2 separate regions of the Homo sapiens genome follow, and region 2 is linked to region 1. Evidence: fine-mapped expression QTL. A gene starts in region 1. The other region holds a variant in brackets. All regions are shown on one strand. Distances are between the middles of the regions. Region 1 holds the start of SESN1 (sestrin 1). Region 2 overlaps FOXO3 (forkhead box O3).

The links. PIP is the estimated chance that this variant, and not a neighbour inherited with it, causes the effect. A credible set is the group of variants that fine-mapping cannot tell apart.
Region 2: its variant is the best candidate, but not a certain one, in a credible set for the expression of SESN1 in ileum (GTEx, PIP 0.61).

The regions. Positions count from the first base shown.
Region 1 is chr6:109,093,365-109,096,273 of GRCh38, forward strand. SESN1 (sestrin 1) reads right to left here and starts at 1,482. Exons shown (of 10, transcript NM_014454.3): 1 at 431-1,482. The coding sequence starts at 709. CEP57L1 (centrosomal protein 57 like 1) reads left to right here and starts at 2,143. Exons shown (of 11, transcript NM_001271852.3): 1 at 2,143-2,211. RefSeq lists enhancers at 850-999, 1,870-2,129 and a silencer at 1,110-1,809.
Region 2 is chr6:108,672,881-108,675,789 of GRCh38, forward strand. The region is part of intron 2 of FOXO3 (forkhead box O3); the gene reads left to right. Among named protein-coding and RNA genes, the nearest start is that of LINC00222, 77 kb to the right of the region's middle. RefSeq lists a silencer at 766-1,060. The variant T/C (reference allele first, on the strand shown) is at 1,332.

The sequences.
Region 1 (2,909 bases):
GTTTGTTTTGTTTTTAAAAATAAGAGAAAATTGTTCCACCAATTATCTTGAACAGGCTGACTAGGAAACATTTAATATCCTTTATCATTTTAGAGGCTTTTAAATGTGAGCCTTTACACTCAGAACACTGTGACAATGTGAAAAAAAAACACTGGCTACATTTTCCAACAACATGTAAAAAGAAATATAAGGAAAAACAAGTATTTACTTGGAATTAACTGTAGTTTTCATATATTCTTCCAGGAGCAAAGCAGTTTCTGCCTAAAACTCTAGAAAAACACTACTTGTTTACTTACAGAACACTCTAAAGATGTAAACTCATAATAAAAGTTTACATAACAACCTAATAGAAACAAACACAACGTGAATAACGGCAAGTAAAATTTAACTGTAGTAGAGACATAGTTGTATTTAAAATGCTCTTCCTTACCTGGATGCTCTTCAGAATAAACTCACTTTTCTCTCTCACATCTTTGAAGGGACACCTCTTAGAAAGCATAAGCAGATGAGCAAGTAGCTTATTCAACCCATCCGAAGACTCGGTATTTGAAAGCCCGTCTGATGGACGATGAGGTGTTTCTTTCACCGAACGAAGATACTCGGTTTTCCTCAAAATGGTTTGCCTAATGTTTTCCAATGCTGTCTCCCTAGTAGTTGAATCTCTGCTGCAGAGTCCATCCCATCTCACTTCATTCTCTCCTTCAGCCATGACAATAGTTTTTCCTTTGCGGTCTTCAGTTACCTTTCAGCATGCCCCAAAAAAATTGCTTTGTATTTTTAAAATGAAAAATGTAAAAATAAAATCAGAGAAATCAAATCGTCATGAAAACACACATCTGGGTGACATTTGGAACCACTGGTGCCTTCAGCCGATCTACAAGCTAGGTCACCCTCTCACCCTCTCCTTGTACACGAAAGGGCAGTCTTCTTTCTGGAAAAACAAAGTTTGAAAGTTGCAACCTTGCAGCGCTGGCTTTGGTGGGCAGAGAATTTCGGGGAAGCGTTCTCCTCCGTCTCGCGGGGTCAGTGGATATCCTCACGTTGTGGAGCTGTCAAATCCGTGCTCTGCCCCAAAAGGCTGTTAACAGCTGAACGCCCTCCAGCCATTCGGGGCTTTTTTGTCTGTGCAGCCACCGGGTTCTCTCCGGCGTTCCCACCCCGCCCCTTCTCCGACACCAGTCCCCGCCCTCCGCAGCTCCTCCCAGCGCCTCAGCAGCCGGCCGGCGCCGGCAGGGAAGGCTCGCCGAACCCTGGCCCACTGGCCGCAGCGGCCGGAGGCTTGGGCGCTGTCGGAGGGCGGCAGTCTCGGGCAGCCGTAGTCTCGGCGGGCGGCGGTGAAAAAAAGCGTCCCCCAGCCCCGCCAATTCGGCACCCCCGGGAAGACGCTACTTCTCCGATCCCTGAGCCCTCGCCCACCACCGCCGAGCCAGAGGGCACAGGGCGGCCCTGGCAATCCTCGAGCGCCAGGCTGGGCCGCGGAGCTGGCGGGGCGGCGGGGCCCGAGGCGCAAAGCCCGCCCTTCGCCCAGCCCCATCGGTGGGGATCAGCCCAGAGGGCGGGAGCAGGGAGTGGAGACGGGGTCCTCACCCCCAGCCCCTCCCCTTTCTCCGCCCGGCACAAACCGGGAGCCGCCCCGGCCCCAGCGCCTTCTTCCCCGCCCAGGCAGACGCGACCCGCCGAGGCAAAGCCTTAGGAAAAAGCCCCGCCCTCTGGCAGGCTACCCTCCGGACCCCAAGTGCGCCGCGCGCGGCTGCCAGCCACTGCCGGCTGCTACGCATGCGTGACTGCGAACTGGGCCAAGCGCCCCCGGAGGCGCTAAGCTTGCGCCCTGAGGCGGTTTCCGTTCCCGGACGTTTGGACTCTGTCCTGGAGAAGGGGAAGGAAAAAGTAAGACGTAGAAGTACACTGAGACTTCGTCACACATAAAACAAGCACGACAAAGAAAGAGGGCGCGAAGGGACTCCTGGAAGAAATTGAGTCTACATTTAAGATCACCCTAAAAGTAGTGACGGCCTCTTCATTACTCCAAACCCCAGATTTAAGTCGGTAGGACGTCTTCGCGTTGACTTGTGGGGAATGTAGTTTCGATGCTGCCGGCGCGTTTTGTTTGCGACAGAAACTACAACCCCCAGGGGCCACCGCGACGTTGCCTGTGGGTGCCCGCGAACCAACGGTTAGCGGTGGCAGGGGCTGACTGAGAGCGTCTGCTTGGTAAGCACTGTAAGCTGGGTTGTCACCTTTCCTTGACAGGGTTTTTCCTTCCTCCATTTCCTCTGGGATTTTGGAGACAAAGCCATCTAGGGTGGCCTCCCTTAGTCCAAGGACTTTTTCCAGTGACTTGCGTGGGAAGGACTAGTCCAGCTGCCCAAGCGCGGGGTGTGGTGGGTGAGGCAAGGATTTGGGATCCTGATCCCAAGGGTCGCAGGGAGCGGCCTAAGTAAGGCCAAGAAGGAAGGATGCTGTGGAAACTGGAGCTTCGCGCTGCTGCCTCTGATTCCGCCCTTTTTTGTGGACACACGCGGGGTGGATTTGGGATCTCCGCGCATTTGCACCTTTGTTTGCCTTTGCTTAGGGATGTTCTGGGCTTTATTTGCTCAGTCAAATGAAATCCTAGGCAGGGCTTTGAAAGCAAGTTGTCAAATCCATCTCGTAAAAGAATCCCCAGTATTCCTAGATAGGAATTCTTGCAGGCTTTAAGGATACAGCAGGAAAAAGAAAGCAAAACCGTAAAAGTCTCCAAAACTTAGTCGACTTTTTCAAAAGATTCAGTCATTTGCTTAAAATTAGTTTGCTTTTAAAAAGTTATTATTTGAGAAAAGTCGAGGTTTGAACGGCCATCAGTGGACTGATAATCGGTGTAGATTTTAATTCTTTACATTGCAGAATTGCATTGCACTAAATTCTAAAAA
Region 2 (2,909 bases), 420 kb before region 1:
TTGTGTGGAGTGTTTGACTTGATTCTTCAGGGGAAATCAGTGACTAAGAAGAGAAGGCCAGAGGTAGAAGTCCAAGAATTCTGAGGTCGAAATTTTCAGTTAATTTCCAGTAGGCCTTCATTTCTGTATATGCCACTGTAATTAATTGGGGCTTTCATTGGTCATTTGTATGTTCAAAAAAGATCAGACAGCAATACCGCCCAACGTAGTTATAAGTAATCAGAAAGTGTCTTGACTGATAGACCTGTTGGAAGGTGACCCTAATGTTTACCTGAAAATGCTGCCTGCCCACCGAGTAACAAAAGCCAAAGCACTCCCTGCCCCACTCGTCAGGTTCTACTCAGACTGCCCTGCTGGCTGGAGTGGGGTGCCCCATGGGAGGCAGCCCCAGCCGGCACTTACACCAAGGTGCAGGTGCAGGCCAAGCTGTAAGAAGAGGGCCACCGGGGCCACACACGCAGATTCCCCTCACTACCGGAATCTGCACACCTGGCCAGGGCACTCCTTTGTCTCCCTCAGTTGTGGAGCCACCCTGGAGTTCCTCTCAGTTCCTCTGTGGCACTGGTGTGATGGTTGTTACATGGCCACCATCTGTGTCACCTGTGTGTCCTGGTCATACCTTACAGGTGGTTTGGACTATTTGTAGAACTCAACTAGCTGATTCTGTGTTTTCAGTTTCAGAATCACTTGGAAAAATTAGATTGTCTCTCAGAATCCTGTGTATCTAAAGCAGGAAAAGAGCGCTTTAGAGATCCTCCCTTCAGTATTTGGTAGCTAAACCCTGAGATGGACTGGCAATTACACCTGCATTTCCACCCACCCTCCAGGGATCTAGGGCATCCCAGCCTGCACACTCCTATCATTCATCCCTGCCCCGCCCCCCACATACACACACCCCAGTAAATGCAGTGAAGAGTCATACAGGATAGGGTCACACCCAGCAAACATAAACATTGTGATATGCAGGTCATGTTTGATGACTGAACATTTCCTCCTGTACTACAATTCCCTATTGTTTTTAAAAGGTGAATCACTTTATTGACAGCAGCTTGAAACTTAGAGTAGCAAGACTCTTAATTTGGGGGCTGGTGGTAAGGATATCTATGGTGGGATGTACAGAAAGGATAGGAGAAGATAAACCTTTTATTAAATACTTGAGAATTAGTTGAATGTTAAAATCGTGCCTTGTATTGATTTCATCTGTAAGAAATAGGAGTTTTAGAAATTGAATGATTGGAAACCATCCTTTTCACATAAAGTACTGCAAATCCTAGGTCATATCCCACCAGGCAGTAGGTTCTGCCTGGACTCAGACTAACTCTTGGCAAATA[T/C]GAGTAGGTCATGGAAGCAGTTGCAATGAAAGGATGCTGAGTGTTTGAGTTGGCAAAGAGGAAGAGAGGGTTCTTCCAGGAGGATGGTTCTTTGATTGATTCAGCCAACATTTATAGTGCATCCATTTAGTACTTTCAACTTACCAGGTTCCTTGGGACATCAAGAAAACTGTTGTTTCTTTCACTGGAATATGTGCTGCACGAGGGAAGATACCAGACAGTGCTCTTAAAGTAGTAGGTGCTCCATAAGTGTTTGATTTGATTTGAAGACTTTGCTTAGCTTTCAAGGAGTTCAACATGTTAGGAGCTCAAAGTCCCTGAAAAAGTTGCCATTTCAGGCACATTATGATTAGATACTAGGTGAGTGACTTAAGAATTGAGTCAAGGATAGCGTAGGGAAGGTGGGGCTGCAGGAGCCATCTGAACATGTAGGTGATTTGCTGGGTGGTAAGAAGAGCCGTCCAGGCAAAGTGTCTTTGAACCTGACCCATCGGACAAGCGGAGGGTTTGTTCCCAGAAGCAGTAGTGGGCCTTAAAGCATGGATGAGGACAGTGGAACCTGATCCCACAGGCCTTTACCAGCTAAGGGTTTTGGATATTATAATAAAGTTAAATAACCATGAATTCAGAGAGGATCCAGACACCCTTTAAAGGCTTTTTGCCTAAAAACTGGGCCTTTAAAAAGAACATAATCTAAAAGTGTACATACTATTATACGTGGTTTGCAAATCTGAGAATCTTAAGAAAATACTAAATCTCTGCAACTTTGCTATTGACAGTAAATCAATACCTGTCATATTTCTGCCACATTAGTATTCATAGTCGACTCTGGATATGTGAAAAATATTGGTTAACATAATCCCTGCCTCAACATAAAGTCAGAGATAGGGATTTATCTGTCCCTATCTCTGATAGGGATAGATCAGATAGTTTAAGATAGGGCATTCTTAAACTTATTTTAGCCATTAATAATCGCTAAATTTAAGCAACAGAAAAGCTGGTGCCTCCCAGCAGGTGGCCCCCAGCCCTTTGTCCCTCAGCTATGAAGTATGAGGATGGCTACCTCTCTCCCTGTGTCTCCCTTGGGTTTTATCAGCACAGCACAAAGGCTGGCTGGAAGGGCAGTCCACTCCAGGTCTAGGCTCTGAGGTGTCCTGGAGGCGAAGACTCTGGAGGACCTTGTCACCAGCCTTCCCAGACTGGTTCACCTGCTGCCTTGACCAAGCCCAGGAATTACTGGGAGGCAGTGCAAGGCAGCCTTTACACAAGTCAAGCTTGTGTTTTACACCCTGTCTTCCTGGAGTCCATGTGAGACTTCCTTGTCAGATTGCATTAATATCAATTCCTTATCTCTCCTAAGTGTTCCATATTTAGTCCCCAGCTTGCTCTAGGGGTTGAAAGTTTGGCTAAAATTATCTTTCTTTTTAAAGAGTGAGGAAAGTGGTGTTTCACTTTATTTTTGCTTGTGGGGCAAACTTTCCTCAAATCATCTAGTTCTGTCTAACTAGGAAAACAGTTGATAACCTTCATGGATTTGTGAATGTGAAGGTTTCAACTTATGATCTCTTTTTCCTTCCA